2 separate regions of the Homo sapiens genome follow, and region 2 is linked to region 1. Evidence: fine-mapped expression QTL. A gene starts in region 1. The other region holds a variant in brackets. All regions are shown on one strand. Distances are from middle to middle. Region 1 holds the start of LINC01088 (long intergenic non-protein coding RNA 1088). Region 2 overlaps LINC01088 (long intergenic non-protein coding RNA 1088).

Evidence for each region. PIP is the estimated chance that this variant, and not a neighbour inherited with it, causes the effect.
Region 2: its variant is fine-mapped to the expression of LINC01088 in blood mononuclear cells (TOPMed, PIP 0.91).

Annotation. Positions count from the first base shown.
Region 1 is chr4:78,969,295-78,973,705 of GRCh38, forward strand. It overlaps LINC01088 (long intergenic non-protein coding RNA 1088), which reads left to right and starts at 2,454. Exons shown (of 6, transcript NR_038342.1): 1 at 2,454-2,582; 2 at 3,706-3,758.
Region 2 is chr4:79,216,302-79,220,712 of GRCh38, forward strand. All of the region lies in intron 4 of LINC01088 (long intergenic non-protein coding RNA 1088), which reads left to right. It also overlaps a transcript of NAA11 not described here. Among named protein-coding and RNA genes, the nearest start is that of NAA11, 110 kb to the right of the region's middle. The variant C/T (reference allele first, on the strand shown) is at 2,352.

The DNA of each region.
Region 1 (4,411 bases):
AATGACATCTTTAAAATATTGAGTAATATTTTATATATTACTGGCTAATTAATATATCTATTTATTTTGTTTTTTCTTTATTTTTTCTCAACAATGTTTTAAGATTTCTGTTTATAGGTTTTCCACATCTTTTATGTACATTATCCCTATTTTATATATTTTTATGTTATCATTAGCGACATTTAAAACATTCAATTTCCAATAACTTGTTGCTAGTATATAGAAATTCAGTTGATTTTATATGCCAATCTTGTATCCCGAAATCTTGCTAAGCTTACTTATTAGTACAAGTAGCTTTGATTCTCGATTCCATCACATTTCTATACAAATGATCATATTGTCTGTGAATAAAGACAGTTTTATTTCTTCTTTTCTGATTTCTGTGCTTATTTATTTTTCTTTTCTTTTTTTATTGTACTAGCTGAAACTTCCAGGACAAAGTTGAATAGAAGTGTTGAGAGTAAAAATTCTTGTCTTGTTCTGGTCTTTTATCTTTCAGTATAATACATTTTCATAGGTGCTTTTTTTTGGTTGAGAAAATTCTCTTCAGTTTCTTTTTCACTGAGTCGTTTTATGAGGAATGGATGTTGGATTTTGCCAAATGGTTTGTTGTGCCTATTTTATGTGCCTATTATGTACATGTTGAATAATTTCTTTTTTCTTTTTTTTTTTTTTTTGAGACGGAGTCTCGTTCTGTCACCCAGGCTGGAGTGCAGTGGCATTATCTAGGCTCACTGCACACTCCACCTCCTGGGTTCATGCCATTCTCCTGCCTCAGCCTCCCGAGTAGCTGGGACTACAGGCGCCTGCCACCAGGCCTGGCTAATTTTTTGTATTTTTAGTAGAGATGGGGTTTCACCATGTTAGCCAGGATGGTCTCGAAATCCTGACCTTGTGATCCGCCTGCCTCAGCCTCCCAAAGTGCTGGGATTACAGGCGTGAGCCACCGCGCCCGGCCCTGAAGAATTTCTTTTAGCATTTCTTGTGTAGGTCTCCTGGAAAAAAAATCTGATTTGGGGAGAAGGGTATGAAAATGTCTTTATTTTTCATTTTTGTAGGATATAGGACTATGCTACAATTTTATGTAGAATCTATTTAGAATCCTATACAGAATTCCAGACTAACATGTTTCACTTTCAGCTCTTTAAAGATGTCATTCCATTGTTTTGGAGTAATTGTTTCTGAAGAGAAATTAGACATAATTTTTATCATTTTTTTCTTCCGTGTAATGTTTCTTTTTTCTCTGACTGCTTTTAAGATTTTTGTATCATCTTTGGCTATCAACAGAGTGAGTATGGTGTGCCTAGTTCTGTTTTTGTGTTTATCCTCTTTTGGGGTTACTATGATTCCTGATGCTGAGGTTTGATATTTTTAATCAATTTTGAGAAATTCTTGGCCATTATGTTTTCAAGGATTTCTTCTGACTCATTTTCTATCTCTCACAGATGCAATTACATATTTACTAGGCTACTTAATATTGTCCTAGAGATCATAGACTCAAGTTTTTCACTCATTCCCCCTTTTATTTATTTATTTATTTTTGGATAATTGACCTGTCCTCAGGTTTACTTCTGCTTTTTGCTGCTGCTAATAGGCTACTGTTGTGTTTTATGGCCTGTTAGACTCCTAATATGTATTCTCTTTTGATGACAGTGTATTTTAAAAACAAATTTTGACATTGCAGTTTGGTTTCTTTTCATACTTTTCATTACTCTGCTGAAATTCTCTATATATTCATGCATGCTCTCTACCTTTTCCACTGAATTATTTGACATATTTATCATAGTTATGCTGAAGTTACTCCCTGATAAATCTAACGTCTGTGCTTTCTAGAGTCTCAGCCTGTTGACTGTTTTCTCATTTGATTATTGCTCACATTTTTTCTCTTTGTGGGTCTCAAAATTTTTTACTCTATGTTGGATATTGTGAGAAAAATAGTAGAGATTGAGAAAATTAATATTTATTTACCCTAAAAAAGTGCATACTTTTTTTGTTAGACCTTTTCTTGGGAAAGTTGAGGAAATCTGTTGTATATTTGAGGTATGTGGGATTATTTCAGCTTTAGTTGGATTAGTTTACCACTGACTTCAAATGTTTTGAAAACAGAATAAGGTCTTTTCTATCACTAGGGCTTGTGATCTGAGCACTGGCAAGATTTCAGAGATCTCTGTGTGCTCCCAGACTGTTTTGGTTGCTAGGGAGTTCTTTTTCCTTTCCTGTTTCTGACTTTATTAATCTCAGGAGGTCTCTCTTCTTTTTGCTCTGCTGCTTCAAGCCTTTGGCATCCAGTGCCTTGTACTTAATGAAAGTTTGCAACACTCTGAGCAACTGTTCTCAGTTCTTCTGCCTTATTTCTGGCCTCCGTTGCAACTGTTTTGACCTAGTGAAGGCCTAGACTTTCTCAGACAGATTTCTTTTAACTCTTCTGCCCTGACTCCAGTCTTCACTGGGATGCTGCCTTGCACTTAGGGAAGGTTCACATGCCTCAAGGATCTCTCTCTCTCAGATTTCTTGACTTTCCCTCAGTCTTCAGTATAGTCCTCCTCTGTGCCTGGTGAAGACCTGTGGTAAAGTGCTGGCAGGTGAGTACAGCTTGATGGTGTGGATGGGTTCCTTGGGACTCCAGCATGTCAAGCTAGTTCACACACAGGTCTTAATAGTTGTCTAAGATTCATGTAGTTCCTCATTTTCTTTTCTGTGGTAGATTCTGTTTCCTGCTGCACCACCAGGGATGAAAAAATTCACTGGTCTCTTCTTTTATAGAACGGGATCATAACTATACAGATTTTAGTTAAGTTAGCTTTATTAGTATTCTCAGCTTTTTTAATGGGATAAAAAGCAATGATATTATGGATTATCTGACTTTTCCTTTAGTATTAGGTTTGCCCAATCATCTCCATGATTTCTAAATTCCAAACTTCTTGAATAAATAAAATTTAAAAGAAAACATTGTACTAAAGTCAAAAGAAGGGTTTTAAGGCATAGTTCTACTTTTTACTGTCCATGTATCCTTGGATAAACTACTTCTCTGAAATTGTATTGCTTGCTTTTTCAGCTTGTTGAGTCTTTCATAAATTTAAGGGTTGGAATATGTCTCTCAGACAGAAATTGATAGAGCTTTGCAAGTCTTCAGATGTATTCAAGTTTGGTAAACACTGGGTTAGGCCATGGATAAAAGATTGGTCTTTGTGTGTTCATAAGAAAACCTGGATAGGAAGCTCTTCTTCTTACAGAAAGCCTCGATTGAGAAGTAAAGCTGGGACTATTAGTCCGTGTTCTGCAGTGAAATAATGGTAGCCATGCATAGATTGATTTAAGATCTATGCATGTTAAGATACCTGTCTTAACACAGGTAATAGTCACATCAGGGAAAAGAGCAACAGGCAGAACTCTTGGCTTTGTGTAAGAGCCCAAGGAAAGGGCCTGAGAGAGTACACACTGTATCAAAGTGTAGTGTTAATGTGAGGTGTCGGGAAAAAGGTCTTGGGTGTGTGTGTGTCTGCATAATATATGTGTGGAAAACTCTCAGTGCTGGTCCTTTGAGATATGTCTGTGAAAACTCTTTCAATTAACAAAAATAACCAACATTAATTGAATACTTTTTATGTGCCAGTCACTGTTCCAAGTTCTCTACAAAAGGTAATTCTTTAGTCCTTATAGTAATACTGTAGTGGTGCTGATACTATTTTTATCTTCATTTTTCAGAGAGGAAGCTAAATCACGTAAAAATTAAGAAACAGCTCAGCGTTTCACAGCTAGTAAGTAACAGAGATGGGCTTGAGACCCAGATTGGCAGGATCCAGGTCTTGTGCTCATGACGACTCTGCTATGGTGCCTCCCTTGAAAGCATCTTAGTGCTTTCATTGTTGTTTTTGTTATTGTTATTCTTACTATTATTTTGTACCCCCTTGGTGGATAGTGGCTGTGAATTTGTAGTTGTTGGTGTGTTTCTTCTGGAGCGTAAGCTCCTTCCTCCTCTATTGTTAGCCAGAGTTTTTGTTACCTTTGAAATAATTGCTAAATCAACAAAACATCTGTTACATTGCTGCTGCTCGAATGGCTATCTTTTAGAATTAGCACTCTTCTTTCTGAATCTGATGCCACAGCCTTTTGAACTTAAGGTATTTGGATGTGTCAGTAAAGGGGCTGTGGTAGCTGTGGTGACAGCAACTCCAATGGTGGTGACCGTAGAGAATGTGGCAGAGCTGTGAATGAGATGAAGAGATTTAGTGATGGCAGAGGAAACTTTGGGATTTCACAACTTTCTTCCTCCAAAAACTATTTGAAAGCAGATATGAGGAGTGGGAAATACAGAAACAATTCCAGCCTTTGTGCACCTTACAGCATAATGAGTGATGCTCACAGCTGATAAATAATAATAGCAAATACCTGTATAGAACTTACTATGTAC
Region 2 (4,411 bases), 250 kb after region 1:
TTCCTGAGCTTGCTTTTGTATGTTTGAGATCATAGTATATCTCCTTTACTCATTTAATATTATACTATAAGCCTGTGACCCAGAACATCTCTTACATTATTTTTAAAAGTCAATACATTTTGAAAGATTTCTTTTTGGTGGGTAGAGTCAAAGTTTATTTTTTAATTAAGACTATCAATTAGCAAAACTCTCTTCTTTAATAAATTCATCAAATGACTGAAATGGTATTATATACACTTGATATTTGTAGAGGAGGGCTGAGTGACATTTTTGGATGTCTTAGGCTGAATTTCCCAAAAAGTATCTTAAATAATATTATATTTTCTAGATTTATTCTTTGAAATGACATCACTAATCATTTAAAAGAATAGTCTATTATATTGACAGCAAATAAAAAGAAAATCTATGTTCACTGTCACTAGTTTGTTGACCACCTCTTGTGTTTCTTACCAGAACTTGACTTCATGAGCTTCCTATTCACCTAAGGAGTGGTGGATGGCTGGTAAAATTGAGTATATGCCCAAGCCAGTATTGATGGAATAAAAATGGCTTCAATACAAGGCCTCTATTAACATGTATTCTGTTTTCCTCACAAATTTATGGAATTTTTCCACCAAACATATGCATATCTGAAATTCAAATTGAGTGCACCTTACCTCATGCTCTCCTCCGTACCTCTAATGAGGTGGAAAAATGTACATTAATGACAGAAAGTTATTTAGTGCTGAACAGAGTTAATTGCTTCTAATCACTGCTTACATCCATGTGGTTTTATGGTAGACAACAAACCTCTTCATTGGGTTTGCTCATTAGACATATTGTAAATCACAGAGATGCACTGGCATCTTGCATATTGTGCTTCTATTAGTGAGGCAGCATTTTCATATAGCCCCAGTGGCAGGCTTTGGGATGCAGATCAACTTGTCTGTGTTCTGTTAGAACTGCAGGGAGTCCTGGTGAACTGGCCTCCTAGGCTCATTTGGAAGGCAATGGAAAGCTACTACCTATCAAACTCTAGATGAAAAGCTGTGAAAGAGCTGCCAGAGACTGGGATAGCAGATACCTTTGCCATGATTTTAGGTGGTAATATTGGTGACTATCTCATTTTCCCCCAAAAGCTTGGGGTTAAAACTTCCTTCTACTACTATTATTTGGCAGAGTAAATAGAAAAAGGATTGTATGAACAAAAAATCAAGGTTTAAAACAGAGGTAGATGCAATCTTTAATCTTGTGTCTAACACTAATAGCTTCTTAAATTGTAAAGAGTCAAGCAATGTTTTATCAGAATTTTGGGAAGATCAAAGGAAAAATATAAGCACATGAATTATTATAGTGAATAGCTTTATCATACCAAAATTACACTTGAGCTAAACTAATTAAGATGCTGTGGTGTAACTGTGCCATTAGCTGATATCAGTTGATGATAAAAGATTTAGAAAATTCATATGGGAAGTAAGACCTGCAAATTTTGTGACAATGTAGAACATTTGACAGGATATTATAATTACCATAATATCTTACATTGTAGGTAATTTTATCAGTTAAACAAGAAATAATCCCTAAATCTTAAAAGAGAGAAGAGGAAGAAACAAAGGGAGGGAAGGAAGAGAGAAGGAAGGAAGAAATAATACATGTGTAGAAGTGTCTGATATTACTTTTCCTTTTTTGGTGCTTGCCTAATTCCTTCCCATTAAGGTAAATGACTTTAGAGGGAGGTAACTAAGTCATGAAGGGTGCAGAATTTAAAACTGAATAGTAACCTAGGGATTATCTGGTAATATATACTCTCCTCATTTCATAAATGACATAACTGAGGCCCAGAAAGATTGAGTTGTCAAAGATAGGTCAAACAGTTACTTTCATGGCAGCAGTGGGGTAAGAGAATACAGATCAGTATCATGTGTCCTCACTCAGCTAGACATCCATTAATTTGTAATCAAAATTAACAATATAACTTAAACATGTATGTAATGTGCTCCCCACCTTCATATTCCCCATTTTTGTACTTTATTTAGGAAAGAAGGAAGTGACAAATAAGTTAGTTTTTTTTTTTTGGTTGGAAAAACAATTTAGACAACATAGTCTATGGTGACTATATATTTAGCTGTATTTTTACATATACAACTCCATAAAATACTAAAAAGCTTTCTGAGTCATTAAAGGTTTGTGAATTTTGAAGTACATTTAGGTCTAATTTAAAACCTAATAAAACCAAGAGTTATTAAAATTGATAACTCACATCTGTCATATATGATAACTATTAGTCCAAATACTTTATTACCTATCAGGAGTATAAAAGTGAAATTTCACCATAGTTCAATTTTTTGGAGTAATTATCCCAACCTCAATTC[C/T]GCTATTTTTTAATATTTTAATGTCTAGATTGAAATGGATTTCTATGTCTTCTTTGCTTCTTCTGTTACCTTTACAATTGAGGTGTAATTGAATAAAATCAACCTGATTTCAAATTACTTTGGAAAGATTTTCAACATAGCTACAATCTTGGTCTCAGGATTTTGCTTAGATTCTTTAAGGATCAAGAGATGTATATGCTGAATTCAATTCATATCAATGGTCTTCTTTTAATTCTGTACTACCATGCAAAATTTTTGCACTTTAGCAAAATATTCAGAGATGTTCACTTTTATTACACCTTTTTTGTTGAAAAATATTCACAGTATATACATATATAATACATGATATATAACATATATACACATGTAAATATAGAATTAAATCATTAAGAAACATATTTATAAATGGGTTATGCCCTTTTACTTTTTTAAGTCCCTACAATATTTTCTTTATAATCTGATTTGATTTGACTTTAAATTGAAACAAGATTTTAAAAACTGTTTTGGAAGTGTTTTTTCTCTCCTTCCACATCTTTAGCATTCAATATGAGTGGAAGGCCAATATGAGCTTGGTCGATTGGATGAGGGTTAAATGAAGAGTAGTCATTATTTCCATTGCTTTAATTATGCCATCCTCACCATGATGGACCTTGCTCCATTTCCCTCCAGTAGACCTGACAGACTATAACTGACCTAATTGATACCAGATGACAGCTCAAATAAGGCCTAATAAAGAAGTAATCACACTGATCTAATGAGCAAGCTGTTATGATATTGGCTTATAGAAAGCTGTTTTTTAATCCCTCCATTTTTCTTTTATTATCCGTAACCACTATTCTCAATCTCCTTTTCTGTGATTCTAGAATCGAAGGACTAAAATGGACCTTAGGGGAAACATAAGCTTGATTTCCTGTTATTTGTGCTATATGATATGCATTGACATTTTTTTCAACTCTTAAATATAGAAATGCCAAACAAACTGAAAAGTTGAAAGACTAATACAATGATCACATATATACCTCCATTTCACATTCAGTCATTATAAATATTTTGCTATATTACTTTGTATTTATATGTATATATACATTTTTTCTGAACCATTTGGAAGTAAGTCACATGTATCACAACACTTCATCCCTGAATGAATATTTTCAACATATATTCCTTTAAAATAAACCATTCTCCTACATAAGCATAATAGTAGCAGCAAATTAACGATAATATCTGGTCTATGTTCAAGTTTCTCCAACTGTCCCCAAATATCAAACCATATCCAACCAATATTTCATTAGTTTTTGAGCCTTGCTTTGCTTTCTAACATAATAAACTATTTTGAGCTCACCTTGTACTTTCTTGTCCTATGTGCGAAGTCAGCCATTGTCCCAAGAAGCCTAGGAGTAAGATCTGGGCTAGCATGCTCACTGCTACAAGACTGTCATTACTTCTGTGACTTTTTTTGAGACGGAGTCTCATTCTATCACCCAGACTGGAATGCAGTGGCACGATCTCGGCTCACTGTAACCTCCGCTTCCTGGGTTCAAGTGATTCTCCTGCCTCAGCCTCCCTAGTAGCCAAGATTACAGGCAGGCGCCACTACGCCCGGCTAATTTTTGTATTTTTAGTAGAGACGGCGTTTCGCCATATTGGCCAGGCTGATCTGGAGGTCCTGACCCCAAGTGATCCACCCGCCTTGGCCTCCCAAAGTGCTGGGATTACAGACATGAGCCACTGTGCTGGGCTTTCTGTGACTTTTCAATGGAATAGGTTTGTGTGCGTGTGTGTGTCTGTGTGTGTGTGTGTGTGTGTGTGTGTGTGTGTTGAATTTCTATGAATAGTTACATTTCAAATGTAATATAGGATTTTCTTAACTTTTAAGATATATATAAATAATATATGTGATTATATATAATCTTTATGCTGAATGTCTGAAAGTCTTGGTACCTAATAGTATTAATTTGTTTAATTGCATTTTTCTATAATACGCATAAAATATTTTCTAAATTACAACACCAATATTGTATCTAAATCAAGTTTAAGATTTCTCTACTTCTGAGGGCTCT